2 separate regions of the Homo sapiens genome follow, and region 1 is linked to region 2. The links come from fine-mapping of genetic effects on gene expression. Tissue or cell type: iPS cells. Region 2 holds a variant in brackets; the other region holds the start of a gene. All regions are shown on one strand. Distances are from middle to middle.

Region 1 (8,000 bases), 190 kb after region 2:
TTGAATTTCTAAACTCACTCAAATTTCATAATTTGCAATTTTGGCCTGGGAATACTAAGCATAGTACTAATGAGAGACTGATCCTTTATTTATTTTGGAGAGGGGAAAGGTACAAATACATATGGAGAGGCTGAAGCCATCAGTTATTTCTACACTAGTATGCATTAGTTCCAATTCCTTTCTCCTAAGTTTGTCAAGCTTGAACTCTGTGAAGAAAGGGAAATTTTGTTAGATGGGGAAGTACTGGGAAATGCTGACACATATAATTACCTAAGGCTAAGCTGGGCCCTAAGGTTACGGACAGAATGATGGGAAAATACTTGTAGGGAGAAGAATAGGTATTCAAAGGGGATGGGAAGAATGATTAAGATAAACCTGGCCTAATTTTTGTGTTTAGTCCCCAAAGGTCTTAGGCCACAGAGCTCTTGCTCCCTGAGCTTTAAGTTCAACCAGATGGCACTGCAGTTACTGACATTCTGAGCTAGCTAGGTTTCTGAGAACCAGCCCACATCATTTCTAAGGCGCAAATGCCTCCAAAGTCTCAAAACACTAGATTTTAAAGCAAACCTTTGATGAGAGTTAACTGTGGTCTGGAACCACATCCTGATAGCTCCAAAGGGAGTTAGGACAAAAGAGAATGCCAAATACAGGTGCAGATCCGAGGTACCCCTCAACCCCTCTACAGACAGCCTATAGGTATTTAGGCCTGAAAGAAAGCAAGCCAGGCAGGATGCAGAGACACACGGCAGGCAAGTGCTGGGGCTTCCTCCTCCCCAATTCCTCTCACCAGCAGGAAAGAGGTAGCTGCACTCAACCCATTCCCAAAGGATATAAAAATCAATATTGGAAAAATGCAGCCCCATAAGAAAAAAAATAACAGAAACAACAAACACAAAATCTTACAGTAAACCTCCCCAGGTAACGTTCTCGTTTACTTAACAAAAATCACTTATTCACCACATACTGGTTGCCATCAGGAAGAGGTCAAACAAAAGAATGTCACATTGACGTTCAGCTCTCAATGCCACACAGCACCGGGTTCTTTGGCGAATAGGGTTCATCCTAACAGAGAGGCTGTGTGTGATATGCCACGCTCTCAAACAGTGACAGTTTACGAACAGTCAATGCTTTCATGCTATCATATAATGGAAAATGAAATTCCGTTGACCAGAGAAAAATAACCTTAAGAATGAATTCAGAAGGGCTTTTTACACTTGAACATGAACTACAAAATGATGCTAAATATGAACTCACCCTAGCACTGTCTTCCCTCCTATCATTTTGTGGGGTAGGGAGAAACAGGCCAGCTCTTAGAGATGACCTGCAATGCTACAAAAATAAGCTCAACCCAGGCTTCTGTCTTTCTTCAATATGGAATTTTTAAATCCTACGATATTAGCTGGAGAGGGGCAAAGGTAATGAACACATCCTATAATAAAAGTGAGAGGTTTTGTTCCATGCTCGTGATGTCCCCTGTCCTCACCTCTTAAATGGCATCTAGTTATGTGAGAACAGGGGGAGAAACTGCAACAGAGGTGCAGAATTCGTTGCCACTGGAGCAGCTCCAGTTCTCGCTGAGCATCTAGGCGGATTCTCTGGGAACTGCCGTTTCCATGTCATTTTATTTCACATGCTACAGTTTAGAATTTCTAAGGAGAAAGAGATCGTGCATCCGAACACTAAACCGGAATAAAAATGTACAGGAGATACTAAGAATAGGACAGAAACCTGCTAAGTCTAAAATATATAAACCCGCCATAGCCAACAAAATAAGGCTTCCAAGAAAAGGGGGTGGAGGTGCAAAAGAGCCGGCTTCCCCTAAAGGGCCTGGCTGCAAGAATCCCTCTTTGGCCACTAAACGGTTTTAGCAGAACCACAGATTCGTTCTGAGGGGGACAATTTGGATTCGGATTCAGCAAGAAGTAGAAAAGGTGCAGACGCGGCCAAGAACAGGGCTCCCTCTGCAAAGAATCCAAGCCCAAAGGAAACGCGGAAGGGATGGAGAAGAGAGACGCGGGAACGAGCAGGGAGTCTCTCCCGTCCTACACTGGCGACTCAAGGGGGCATCGGCAGTCGGTGGGAGGCAGAGTGTGGTCTCCCAGCAGAGGCAAGTGTGCTGACCTCCAGGCCAGTGTCAGTGGAGGGGAGCTCTGAAGGGTCTGCAGACGCGCCCTCCGGAAACATCAGGTTTCAGTGGCATCCATCCAGATGAGGTTGGTGGCCCAAATCCAAATGTCCCATTCCTCTGCCCCATCATGAGACGACGGGGCAGGGACCCACTGTGACCCGCGTCCGCGATTAGAATCGGGGACTGCCCGAGACCAGAGGCCGCCCGAGTCCCGGCTCGCTCCCCTCCTTGCGCCCTTCGCCGGGGCGGGCAGCCGGGCGGCCGCCGAGGGACATCTCGCGGCTACACCCGCAGAGGGAAGTTCTCCCAGGCAGCCGGCGGAGCCGCAGGGGACTACGGAAAGGAGGATGCAACGAGCCTGGGTCCCTCCGAGCTGAGTAGGGCCCGGAGTGGCCCAGAAGCGCTCGACTCCGAACGCAAAAAATGCCTCCCGCAAACTTTTCCCGTGGGCGCCGGAGGGCCTGGAGCTGGCGGAGAGGAGGGCGCGAGTCCAGGCGGGGTCGGCCTGAAGGCAGCTGGGGTCTGGGCTTCGAGGGAAGGAACCGCAGCCGAGGCGGTGCCGGCCGCAGAAGGTGGGGCTGCCGCTCTCGGCTAGCGGCGTTCTCGCCGGGAAGTCGGGGCTCCGCGCCCCCGCGCGCTCCGAGCCCCGCGCCTCGCCCAGCGCGGCCCGCGAGTGGGGAGAGGCGGGCCCCGAGCAGCCACCCCGGTCGCCGGCCGGGTCGGGCAGCTCGCGCTCACCTCGGTCCTCCAGCCCGTCGCTGAACTGGCCGCTCTCGCTGATCCGCACCTGCCGCTCCTCCTCCAGCTGGGGCGGCTCGCGCACCGGGGAGCTCAGCGGGGCCGGGCCGGGGGCGGCAGCCGGTGGCGCGTGGCCCCGGGGCGGCGGCGGGACGGTGGGCCCCTGGGAGCTGCGGCGCTGGATGCCCGCGGCCGGCTCCATGGCGCGGGGCTGCGGATCCCGGCGGCGGCGACGACAAGCGCGGCGGGGACTCGAGTCAGAAGTGCGAGGCGCCGCGGCTCTGGCGGGGGCAGGAGCGGACGGACTGGCCGCGTGGACAGGGAGGGAGGGCGGGCGGGCGCCGCGGAGTGGAGGTGCACGGGCGGGGGCGGGGACGAGCGGAGAGCCGCTCGGCTCCGCGGCCGGTGGCGGAGGCTGGGGCCGCGTTGTTGCCGCCGCGCTCCGCCCCTGGGGGCAGGTGCGGGCGGCAGGGACCCGCCCCAAGGCCCGGGCGCGGGAGCCGGCGCACCGAGGCGGACGAGAGGGAGGAACCAGCGTGAGGACCCACAGGCGGCCCTGGCAGAGCTTGGCTAGGGCGTAGCGGGGACCCGCCCCACCTGCGCCGCGGGATGGTGCCCAGAGGGGACCCCTCCCACTGGATTCCTCTGGGGTCCGCGAAGCCCGCGGCCGCGCGTGGGTAGCAGACAGCGCCCCTAATTTGGCATCTTTCTCTTCTGGAGCTGCACAGGCTTCAGAGGCTGTACAGGGTCTTCGCCTGGGCCTCCATTCTCACTGCTCATCCAGGGAAAAAGGGTTCATCTGTCCCCAAGCCCGTCGCTCTCCGTCCTTCTCGGAGCTTTAACTCCCCTCCCAGTTTCTCCCTGGAGCACCCATTTAGCCAGGGATGGGGTATCTTTAGGACAGCGGGCGCTATAGAAGATGCTTGAACTCCGAGGCTTCCCCATTTCGACTCTTCCTGGGCCTTTGTCCCATACAGTTCGCTCCCCTGCTCATCTAAGTCTTGTGTGATCTTCAGAAATCCATGGAAGCCTCCCTTCTACGAGAAGTCTCCCCTACTCTGACCCCTGCAGCTCTTAATTCATTTTGTGCGGTGGGGCTGATCTCACCAGTGAGAGTCCACCGCAGGGCACACGCCAGCTCTCTTGATGCCCAGAGAGGAGCAAAAGAGGACCTGCTGTTTAATAAATTCAGCTTGGATTTGTTGAGGCTCAGAAAAGTATACCCCAACGTATGGCACTTTGGTATGCTAAGTTTGAACTAAAAAACTAAACAGGCCTCTGAAGCCGCCTTAGAAACAAAGTCTGTCTCCCCCCCGACTTTCTCCCCACTAAGCAGTTCACAGAAACCAGAATTCCTCTTCCCTACGGTGGTCATACAACCTAGAAATAGTACTCCAACCTCCCTGGTCCTCTGCCTTTCTGTGTAGGAGCTGGCCATGAAGAAATACTCAGACCTACCTTGTCTGATAGTAGATCCTGAGACCCTCATTCCAGAAGAGGTCCTGCTCTATACATGCTGCACAGAGAGGCCAAGAAGAATCTGAACAGGCCTCGCTGGGTTCAACCCTCAGTCTATTACCATTAGATCACACCCTTTGTCCAATCACATTTCTATAAGGCTGTCCATTCTTCACTGAATCTAAGCATAAAAACAGGCAGTTTTCCCTGAGTCTTTGCATCTTCATTTCTGAAGGCTCCTGTATCACATAAAACTTTGATTCAATAAATTTGTTACGCTTTTCTCTTATTAGCCTATCTTTTGTTATAAGCATGTTTGCCGTGCCCCTTATGATGGGGAGGAAAGTATCACACCTTTTCTGCCCCTACCGTTTCAATGGTATCAACATCCAAGCTCTAGAGTCCGGCTTTCGTCTTTAGATTGATTCAGTCTCTGAATTTAATCCGGGTACTCCAAAATGTCAATTCCTCATTTAAAGGAGTCCTCCTCGTTTCTTGAAGAGTCACCCTTTTCCTTTTTCTTGTCTGCTTTGCTTGTGATTGAAATGAGAGTAGGATTTAAATGCCTTTGTGGTGCACTGGAAATATCACCAGAAATGGGGAGAGGGGTCTTACTTTATTTTGTTGCTGCTGTTATTATTGTTGTTGCTGGATTGGAATGAGAAGATCTGAGTTGACCTTGACCAACTTACTTTACCTTGTTGACCACTAATTTCTTCAACTACAAATTGAAAGAGTTGAACTACGTCATTTCAAAGATCCCTTCCTGCTGCAAAGAAAAAGAAAAATGCTATGATTACTTGGATAAAGACAATGAAAATCTCTACCCATTAATCCTGGTTCTATCCTCTAAGGTAGAACATCCTTCAGATATATTTGCAGAGTCATCTCCTCCACTTTTTTCCTCCAGTCTATCCCATTTAATCCCCCTGTCAATGGCTCTCAAAGTATCACCTGGGGAGTCTAAGAACAAAAATACCGAAGCTTCGACTGCTAGAGATTCTGATATCATATTTAACGTGATCGTTCTTGGCTGGGACCTTGGCATGGGTATTTTGTAAGGCACTTCCCCATTCTAAGAGTCATCTGGGGGCTTAAAAAAAATTGGCTGGGCGTGGTGGCTCACGCTTGTAATCCCAGCACTTTGGGAGGCCAAGGTGGGCAGATCACAAGGTCAGGAGATCGAGACCATCCTGGCTAACATGGTGAAACCCCGTCTCTACTAAAAATACAGAAAATTAGCCGGGCGTGGTGGCAGGTGCCTGTAGTCCCGGCTACTCAGGAGGCTGAGGCAGGAGAATGGCATGAACCCAGGAGGCGGAGCTTGCAGTGAGCTGAGATCATGCCACTGCACTCCAGCCTGGGCGACAGAGCGAGACTCCATCTCAAAAAAAAAAAATTATTCCTCCCTGGCTCTCTGAGATTCTGGTTCAATAGATCTGGGATCTGGCTGGGAACCTTCCTTTAAACCCCTCTTGCCCCCCGGCCTCCAACACACATTCTGATGTCAATTATTCTGCAACCACCCTTTATGATTACTCTCCACAATATGGACCATCTAGCTCTGTGCCCTTCACATACACACACACACGGTCTGCAGCAGATTCTCACCAAAGGAACTGGTATCATTATTCTTTCCTCTGGTTCCTCAGTTGGTTCTGTAAGTCCAGCACATCTCAAAGGTGAGCGTGGCAATGAACATCCGCAATTCTTCTTAAAATGCTGATTCTAATTTAGTTGGTCTGGGATAGAGGCTGTCAACCTAAAAGGAAGAGGCTGAGGCACAAAATATAATTGAAAGAATTTGCTTGAGCCCAAATGAGGACAGCTACCCAGGACGTTTCTAAGTTGCCTTGAGGAGTGCTCCATTAGCCTTTGTTATAAGCAGGTTTTTAAAGGCAAAGGGAACAAAGAGAGGGCCGATATAAAGTTGTGTGACAGGAATCCTCATTGGTTTGCAGAGATAACTTGGCTATAGATTGTTGAACTGTCGGGTAGGAGTTATGGTGTCCAGTGTATGGCCATTTTATGGCTATTTGGCATAAATTAGTCTAGAGCCCACATAGTCAGTGGCTTCTAGAGATCATTATTTCACTCAAATGGTTGTCACTTGCTGCTGTTTCATTCCAGTAAGTCTCTGGGGCTGATAATGTAAAGGGGCTTGCATTCCTCAGATTAAAAGTTTCTTTTTTTTGTTTGTTTTCCACCAGGCTGAGATGCTGTTTCTAACAAACCTCCCGATGCTGCTGATGCTGCATATCTGAAGACCACACTTTGAGAAGCAAGGATCTAGGAGTTGTTTGTTATTCATGGAATAAATATATTTCCCATCATGTTCCAGCTGCTCTGGTTAAACAAGCCACTATTGTCTTTTCCAGAAAGATTTCTCTGACTCCAGCTCCCCTTTGGGTGCTCCTTTTTCTAAACTGTAATTGATTAATAATTCACCATTTATTTCATGTGTGGAGCAGGGATAGTGGTGCTTGCCTGATGTGCATTCCTTACAAACACCTACCTGGGCATCGGGGACACAGTGTCCCCTCAAACAATCTCTGCTGATTAACTGGAAGATAACACTAGCTTACATTTTTGGAGGACATACCATGTGCCGGGTACCTAGCTAAGTGTTTTACATGCATTGTCTCCCTCATTCAGCTACTACTGTCCTCATTTCACAGATGAACAAACAAAGGCCGATCTGCCTTGTCGACCTCTGCCCACCACCATAATCCACAGGGGTACTGCCCGCTAGGGGGCATTTTGGAAATTTGCAGGTACTTTCATTGGTCATCACAATGATGGGAGGAGGGGGCCACTGACATTTAGTTGGGGGTGGCCCCAGATGCAGGAGATTGGTCTGTGTCCCACATGGCTTTCATTTGTCAGACCTGACCTTTGCTTCAGTTGAAATGTGCATCGAATTACGGTGGAACTTTAACTTTGTTTTACATATAAACACAAAATGTTTTTGCATCTTGTGAATACACACAGGAATTTCTGGAAATGCAACTACTGTATAAGTCTAGGAAGGGATGGTACTCTTTTTACCACTTTGGAAAATCAGGACACAGAAGCCAGTTCCATTCATGTTATCTGTTTCAGCAATCAACACATATATGATGCCCACAAGCCCAGTAATTTCATATGTGTATATTTCTTTAGTTCCTGTTTCAAAATAACAGCAATTTAAAGAAAAAGTGTAAAAAATATTCCAGAGTGCCTGACTCTCTGTTCTTAAATTATAAATAGGTACAAATATCTGACTGCTTATTTGTGACCTCTGGTGTAGCTCTGAGTGAGCATTTAAATATTAATTATGTATTACTTTATTTTATTCCTCCTCTATTATAATTTAGGTCATTATATTGATTTTTCAACTATGTGTATATGCATTAGCCATGAATTAATTTCATAATCACAATAGTGAATAATGTAAAACAGTTGGGGCCAGGCACAGTGGCTCACGCCTGTAATCCCAGCACTTTGGGAGGCCGAGGCAAAAGGATCACCTGAGGCTAGGAGTTTGAGACCAGCCTGGTCAACATGGTGAAACCTTGTCTTTACCAAAAATACAAAAATTAGCCAGGCCTGGTGGTGCACACCTGTAATCCCAGTTACTCGGGAGGCTGAGGCAGGAGAATTGCTTAACCTGGAAGGCAGAGGCTGCAGTGAGCCA
Region 2 (8,265 bases):
TAACATGTGGACTGCCAGCTAACAGGAAGGCTTGTGAAGGAGCAATGGTGAACTCACAGAAAGGCCACCACAGCCTCTGTGCACACAAGGTGAACATCAACTTCGCTGAAGAGCATCCTATAATCCCAGGATCGGGGACATATCAGATGCAGAGCTGCACCTGCATAACCCCTCCTAGGAGGCAGGCACTGGGGAGACACTCTGCCTACACTATCTCCCACCACTCCTCATACCTGTCTGAGAAGACAGATATTTAAGCAGTCGAGGAAGACCAAGTTCAAAGGGTATGAGAAACATGTAAGGTTGCCAAGCTGAGATGTGGACTTGTCTGCCCATAAGGCTCAAAGCTTCCACTCCGGACACTCACCATCCTGTTTCTCATCTCCTTCTGTCCGTTTCTCCGAAGCATGCCCTGAGGCACCTGTTATACTGCCCCATCCTAGATCCGTGGAGAATTTCTAGCGGGGGTGGGCTTAGACTCAGGAGTCTTTATAAGCTCCACTGATGGCTCTAGAGCACCCAGAAGTCTAAGAACAGGACAGTCACTGTGACAGCCTTTGTCTGCCCAGGCACAATTACTGCCAGGCCAACTAGGGGCTTGTTTTCCACAAGAGGGAGAGACTGGCACTGCCCACTATCTGATTTCCCTCAAGAGGAAAGAAAGCAGCATAAAACACACTGGCTGAATTCATCACAGAGAAGGAATGCGTTTGAATTTGCTTCACTTTATTTGAGAGAAGCCAGCTGCTAAGAGAGCACCTAAAAGGTGAACTAAGCAGGTTAGTCCCAGAAACTAAGCCATCTTGGCACTGACAGCATCCGAAGTGCTAGCACTTTAAGGCCTGTGGATTCATGGACTGGATAATTTGCTCCCAAAAGTCCCACAACCAGAAATTAGGAGGGCACATTTGTAAATAACCCACAGTGCTTGTGTTAGAGGCCACAGATCCCATAGTGGCTTCACCAACTGTGGCATTTTGCCCACAACAGAAGCAGCCTTGTAAGGACAGGTAGCCAGCCACACAGGGCGAATGACTGTGGGAACAGTAAAGAGAAAAGTCATTTATTATTCCTGCCATGATTACTCCACTGGCATATCTAAGGCTCATCCCAATTTTCCCTACTGTTACAAGTACCCCATTTTTCTCTCATTTGTCTGCCCAATGATCTTGAATTAAAGTCACATGCTGATTTTAAACAAGGGGCGGGGGGAAAAAGATCGAATCCCTTGCATGTTGAAAGAAAAATGCCGTGTGGCTTTGAGCAGACGTTGTGATGCCTATTCCCCTCCTAATTACCAGCCTGCTGGCTTTCTGACAGATGGGATAGAACCACACCGCCTCATACAGCACTTATATAATGAGGTGCTGGTAATCACGACTCCACATTCAATCTGCTCCATTAATGCCAGAGGTGGTTCAACCAAATTAGAGAATTACGGTCTTACAGATAAGACTGAAACGTGTGTACACAGTAATTTTATTAACCATGAACATGCTTTGTGTAAAAAGGGCTTCCAGTTCAAAACAGTGAGAGAGACATGCAATTTGCAACCTTCACTGATTTAATAGCCTGGGAGTGGGTCTGCAGGTGGGGGTCGGAGCGTCTGTGTGCTATTACTGAACTGCGACAACACCACAGAATAAAAACATCACCAGCCAGTCAATTAAGGGAATTATTCATGAGCTTGTTAAAAGGTCACATGCCAAAAACTTCATGTAACAGGAAAGAGCTGAGGTGCGGTACTCAGTTGTTTTGTTGCTTTTAAAACTCAGAGATGATTGGAAATGAGGATAAGCCAAATTTCATTTAGAAAAAATGCTTAAAAAGCTATTACTGATGTCTTTCAAAATCCATTACTGAGAAAACCTAGAAAAGCACTCCTGTCTCTCCCCCAATCTCCCCTCAGCTGCTCCCTGCCACCATTACACCACGTTTCTCAGCAAAGGAGCTGATATCTAATTCATCTTGGTAGGAATTACTCTGATCGTGGTGAGGCCTCTTCCAGGCATTTAGGATCAGTCTAGAGGTAGACAAGTGGTTTTTCTCCTAGTCAAAGAAATAAAGTTTCCATTAAACAGAGAAACGGGAAGTGGGGAGGGGTCCTGAAACCCAGCCTTAGTAAGTAACACTACTCCAGTGGTTCTCACCTGAGGAGATTTTTACCCCCACTCCACCTCACTTCTCCCCCAACTCCCTCCCACAGGGGATACTTGGCACTTTCTGTAGACATTTTTGGTTGTCAAAACCAAGTGGGTGGAGTGTTGACAGCATCTAGTGGGTAGAGACCAGGGATGCTTTTAAACATTCTACAATACACAACAAATAATTATCCAGCCCAAAGTGTCCACAGAGCTGAGACTGAGAAACCCTGTTCTACTCCAATATTTTAGAGCCTTGCAACCCCAAGTGTGGTTCTTGGACCAGCAGCAGCGACATAACCCAGGATCTCAGAATCTCAGGACCTTCCCCAGACTTCCTGAACTACAGCCTGCATTTGAATAGCCCAGATTGATTTGTAATTGCATTAAAATGAGCTGCAGTCTTAGGACGATGGTTGTCAAAGTTGGTTACACACGAGAATTACCCAGGTGGCTTAACACTTGGGTCCCACACTCAGCCATAGAGGTGTAATTGGTCTGGGAAGCAGCCTAGGGGAAATGCAAGAGTTTTTGTTTTTTAATATCGATAACATTTAATGCTGTAATTGAGAGCTTGGGTTTTTAAAATTTTAAGTTCTGGGATACATGCGCAGGACGTGCAAGTTTGTTACATAGGTAACATGTGCCATGGTGGTTTGCTGCACCCATCAACACATCACCTAGGTATTAAGCCCCACATGCATTTGCTATTTATCCTGATGCCCTCCCCCTTTCACCCCCTACCCATAGGCCCCAGTGTGTGTTCTTCCCCTCCCTGTGTCCATGTGTTCTCACTGTTCAGCTCCCACTTATGAGAACATGTGGTGTTCGGCTTTGTTCCTATGTCAGTTTGCTGAGGATGATGGCTTCCAGTTCCATCCATGTCCCTGCAAAGGACATGATCTCATTCCTTTTTATGGCTGCGTAGTATTCCATGGTATATATGTACCACATTTTCTTTATCCAGTCTATCATTGATGGGCATTTGGGTTGATTCCATGTCTTTGCTATTGTGAATAGTGCTGCAATGAACATATACATGCATGTATGTTTATAATAGAATGATTTCTATTTCTTTGGGTATATACCCAGTAATGGGATTGCTGTGTCAAATGGTATTTCTGGTTCTAGGTCTTTGAGGAATCACCACATTGCCTTCCACAATGGTTGAACTAATCTACGTTCCTACCAACAGTGTAATAGCGTTCCTATTTCTCCACAGCCTCGCCAACATCTGTTGTTTCTTGACTTTTTAATAATCGCCATTCTGATTGGCGTCAGGTGGTATTTCATTGTGGTTTTAATTTAATGCAAGAGTTTGAAAAGCTCCCCAGGTGATTCCTGTGTGTAGTGAACTATAAGAATCACCGTCTTCAAAAGGATAAATTAGTGCTACTCAAAGTGTGGTTCCCCAGACTTGCAACATCTGCATCACCTGGGAGCTTGTTAGCAATGCAAATTCTCAGCTTCACTCCATCCCTCCTGATCAGAGACTCTGGGGTGGGCCTGGCAGCATGCCCCTTAACAAGCCCTCAGCAGATTCTGAGGCCCCTGGAGTCTGAGCAGCACCGCGTTAAATGATAAGACTTAGCTTCCTTGGAATTTCTGATCATTTGCAATTAGATTGTTGTGTTCTCCATCAGATGGGTATCACAATCGCCTCTAGATTAAAGAAGCCCCCATTTTGCAGGAATTCAACTACAAAATCAATCGCTGGGGAGCACTGGAAGGGCACTTGCCCCCTTTGTTGTGACATTATAAGTGTT[G/T]TGTGAAGATAGCGCCTAATGAAGTAGACATTTTGCTTTTGAGAATACCCTCTGGGCTAAGGGGACAAGTTTACTATAGTTTGGAACCACTCAATGGAACTTTGACCTCCAAGTTTGTGTTTAGGGAAGAACCCACTAAAAACAGAATCTGCCTCCTTCCCTGTCTAACACTCCCAAGACCAAGGTGGGCATTCCCTTCAGACAGCCTCAGAAGCCTGCCTCTGACACCTAGCTGGACCTGAGGGCATCTCTCCTGCATCAGTCTCCCAGACCTGGGGGTGTCCAGTAGTCCAGAAAAGCTTTCTAGAATGTTTCTGGGCAGTTGGGTTAAGATAAGTTAGGTGGAAGGCAACAAGGAGAACGGTTTGCAAATAAGAAGGCAGGGATGCTGCGGGCATTCACACAACAAATTTGTTCATCAGGCTGTTGGAAGGGATTTCAGCAGAGGGTATAGAGAACACAGCTGGAGAACTGGCTCAGGCCAGGCCTCGGGTGTGCCCCAGGTGTTGCTGCTTCTAGTGCCAACCATGGTGCTGGGCACTAGACCTTTCAGAGCTAGTGCAAAGCTAGATTTGCTCAGCACACAGTAGGTCCAAACACATGGTCACTTTTACCTTCGCATTTCACACTTGCTCTTGGGAAATCGATGGGAGAAGAAAAGGAGTTTTTCCTTCTTTTTAATAAAAGAAAAGGGAGCGTACACTTCAGGACACATTTAGCAGGACAACAGAATCTTATACAACCACCCAAGGTTAAGTAAAATATTTTAAGTAAACTAGTGTTCCACATCAGAAGTCTCTCAGACTATTAACCCCACAGAAGCCCCACCAAAATTCAACACAATTCCACATCCTACAGCACCACTAATAATTATCCCTAGACCCCCATAAATCGGAGAAGGTTTCACAGAAAAACCTACAAACCCTATCACCAAAAGAACACTTAACAATAAAGCATATGCCATTATGCATATAGTTTATGAGGCTTCCACATCAGAAGTCTCTCAAGAAGGGGCTGAATTAAAATCTCCTCCACAATTATGCTAGACAAATCAACTATGTGAAACTGAGCTTTTATGTAATTAATAAAGTCTCTCCAACTAGATTAGCTACTTCTAAAATCAGAGTGTAAGCTACTTTACACCCAGCAGGGAAAATAGCCCGGCAATGCAGTGCAGGCTGACAGGTCCTCTTACAGAACCACTGGAAAAGCATCATAAAAGTTCCATGTCTGCTTTTGCCCTAACTGGGCCATTATATTTTAAGAAGAACATGGTAAATGCTCATCCTCCAAGCCTTGTCTTTTACCAACCCCCTAAAAGTGTTCACTAAGAAAACCTAATAATGAAAACTTAAGTATGTCTAAAAAACAGCACGGTTCAGTATATGCTGTTCAAGACAGATAAACAGATGAAGTCTCCCATTATTTAGTCTAAGCTGTAACCACTCAACTAAGACCCTATAAAAATGCCTCACCACAAATAGTTTTCTAGGGAGTTATCAATTAATTCTGGTAATGAAATCTCCCATATTTCTCATTTTCTTTTTCATGATAACAGACTATTTGTCAGTCATGACTATTAGCTATAACTAGGATAAAATCTCATCTTCTTGGTGATTATATCATGTCTCTTCCATCTCCTTTCACTTGCCCTGACCCCTCTGCAAATCTATACAGTGTACATGCTTACATACGTGTATGCATCTATACATACATGCATATGTGTTTATGTGCATGCTTGTGTGTATATACACTTACTATAGAGAGAGAGAGGAAGGAAGGGAGGAAGGGGAGGAAACCTTAGAAAGTATATTATAAAGAAATTTTAGAAGTTTAAGAAAAAGAAAAACCTTCAGAAAAAAATACAACAAATCCTTAACATGTGCAAAAGACACTTGCCAAAAAAAACAGCCCCAGATCCCCAAATCCCGCTGCTATCGCTGAGGGTTGAGGAGTGAAGGGGAAGAGCAGCTGTGGCAGGAAATTGAAGGTCTAAGGGCTTTACAATTTCCAGAAAAGTATGTGACAGTGAGCCCAACACCACAGGGCTCTCCACTTCCCGCTCTCCCGGGATCCTGAGCAAGGCTATAGGAATGACTTGTCCTAGCCTTGGGAATCATTCCGGTCCTGGCTGAAACCACAAACACGGGCTGGGAAAATGACAGGATTGAGATGGGATGCCCATAAATAAATCACTGTAACAGCATGGAAAGCCCTCTGATGAGGTGATATTTAAGAGGAACATACGAAAATAATTAGCCAAAGACACAATCAAAAGAGTAGCGCCAACATGTATGTTAGATATAGGTCCAAAATGGGCTAAGTCTTGGAAAAAATATTTCCAAATGCCATTCAGAACAAAATTCTCAGGTTAACTACAACCCAAGAAGAATGGTCAATGTTTACATGAGACAAAAGACAGAATAGCACCACTTCTGGCCTGTCAACTGGGCAAGGAACAGAAAATAAAACTAATTAAGAGGACACAGAAGTCCAACAAGACAGAACGAAAAAGAAACACCTGGTCCTTCTAACACCATCCAGATCCTAAATCACATTATCCCAAATGGTGAAAGATCATTCCATGTTGTTATGGAAAAACTCCCAGTAGCCTTTTAAAAAATCAGGGCAAACAGGAAACTATTCTAGAAGTTGGGAAATGGGTCTTGGTGTTTGTAAGCAGATCTTAGAAATTCAAGACCGATGAAAGGCTTACTTCAATTATCAGATGGCTTACTTAACAGATTTAGTCTAACAATTCCAAAATGAAAAACATTTTGTTCAGCTCACCTAGGTTCACCAGGAATAAATCTAACTGGCCTAACTCCATTTCCTTTAGAGATGGCTTCCCTAACCTAGTAAACCAGGAGAATGCCTCAGATGATACATTTTGATTTTAACAAGGCATCTGATAAGAGTTTCTTATAACATTGTTATGAATGAGATAGAAAAGTTAGGGTATGGTGAGGTGAACTAAACTCTGGTTAGACAAACATTCTGGAAAATCTTGATCAGCCAAACAATTTGGAGTAACATCTCTAGGGTCAATTCTTAAGCCATTTGAAAAGTGAAAAAAAGTTGTAATGATACCACTTTGCCTCTTCAATTGTCCATTTTTAAAAATGAAAACAGCCAGTGCTGGTTGGAATACAAAGTGTCAATCTCAGTGGACAATTTAGTAATATGTCTCACACTTCTGATTAGAAATTGCATTTAAAGAAATATTCTTCCTAAGGAAATAATCAGACACAAGATTGTATAAAGCCCTTCACTGCTATGTTATAATAGGAGAAGAAAAACCATACTTGGGTATTTAAGGTGAATGGTTAATAACGGTGCATCAATAAGATGCAACATTGACACTTAAAAGGAAGTACATCAAGATTTTCAATAACAAAGAAATGCTCACTTTAGAAAGTGGGGGGAAAAGCAGGATGCACAACAGAACACGTACCATTAGCTCAGCTTTATAAAAATGTGTACCAACCCGGCCAGATGCTATGGCTCACACCTGTAATCCCAGCATTTGGGAAGCCAAGGCCAGTGGATTATTTGAGGCCAGGAGTTCAAGACCAGCCTGGCCAACATGGTGAAACCCCGTCTCTACTAAAAATAAAAAAATTAGCTGCGCCTGGTGGTGCATGTCTGTAATCCCAGCTACTCAGGAGGCTGAGACAGGAGGATCACTTGCGCCCATGAGGCAGAGGTTGCAGTGAGCTGAGATCACGCCACTATACTCCAGCCTGGGTGACAGAGTCTCGCTCTGTCTCAAAAACAAAAACAAAATGTATATAAACCTGCGCACATGCATAAAAGAAATGGAAAGAAAAAAATCTCCAAAAGCTAACCATTCTCTGGGTGGTAGGATGAGGGGTGACTCTTCATACATTAAATTGTCCAGTTTTTGGTCAGGCATGGTGGCTCACATCTGTAATTCAGCACTTTGGGGGGTCAAGGCAGGTGGAATGATCTGAGGTCAGGAGTTCAAGGCCAGCCTGGCCAACATGGAGAAACCCCTATCTCTACAAAAAAAAGTACAAAAATTGGCCGGGCATGGTGGTACACACCTGTAGTCCCAGCTACTTGGGAGGCTGAGGCAAGAGAATCACTTGAACCCAGGAGGCAGAGGCTGCAGTGAGCCAAGATCTCCCCGGCGATCACACTATTGTACTCTAGCCTAGGCGACACAGCAAGACCCTACCTCAAAAAAAAAAATTGTCCAGTTTTTAAATAATGAGTACATACTAATTTTAAAATCATGAAATGTTATTTAGACTATATGTATTTTTACAATTGGTTTTCAAAAACCATGAAAAGGAAAGTTTCGAGTAACCAAGCAGAAGCTGGAGGCGTGGAAG

Direction of the effects. Positions count from the first base shown, and alleles are read on the strand shown. Sizes are in standard deviations (SD) of each study's normalised expression.
With allele G in place of T in region 2, the expression in iPS cells of the gene that starts at base 3,133 in region 1 is lower (large effect, 1.4 SD a copy in HipSci).

Evidence for each region. PIP is the estimated chance that this variant, and not a neighbour inherited with it, causes the effect.
Region 1: TMEM163 starts here. The variant in region 2 is fine-mapped to the expression of TMEM163 in iPS cells (HipSci, PIP 0.95).

Annotation. Positions count from the first base shown.
Region 1 is chr2:134,715,868-134,723,867 of GRCh38, forward strand. It overlaps TMEM163 (transmembrane protein 163), which reads right to left and starts at 3,133. Exons shown (of 8, transcript NM_030923.5): 1 at 2,867-3,133. The coding sequence starts at 3,068. LOC105373629 (a long non-coding RNA gene) reads left to right here and starts at 2,245. Exons shown (of 2, transcript XR_923354.4): 1 at 2,245-2,700; 2 at 6,535-6,657. RefSeq lists a silencer at 3,217-3,456 and an enhancer at 5,159-6,358.
Region 2 is chr2:134,521,654-134,529,918 of GRCh38, forward strand. All of the region lies in intron 4 of TMEM163 (transmembrane protein 163), which reads right to left. Among named protein-coding and RNA genes, the nearest start is that of TMEM163, 190 kb to the right of the region's middle. The variant G/T (reference allele first, on the strand shown) is at 3,908.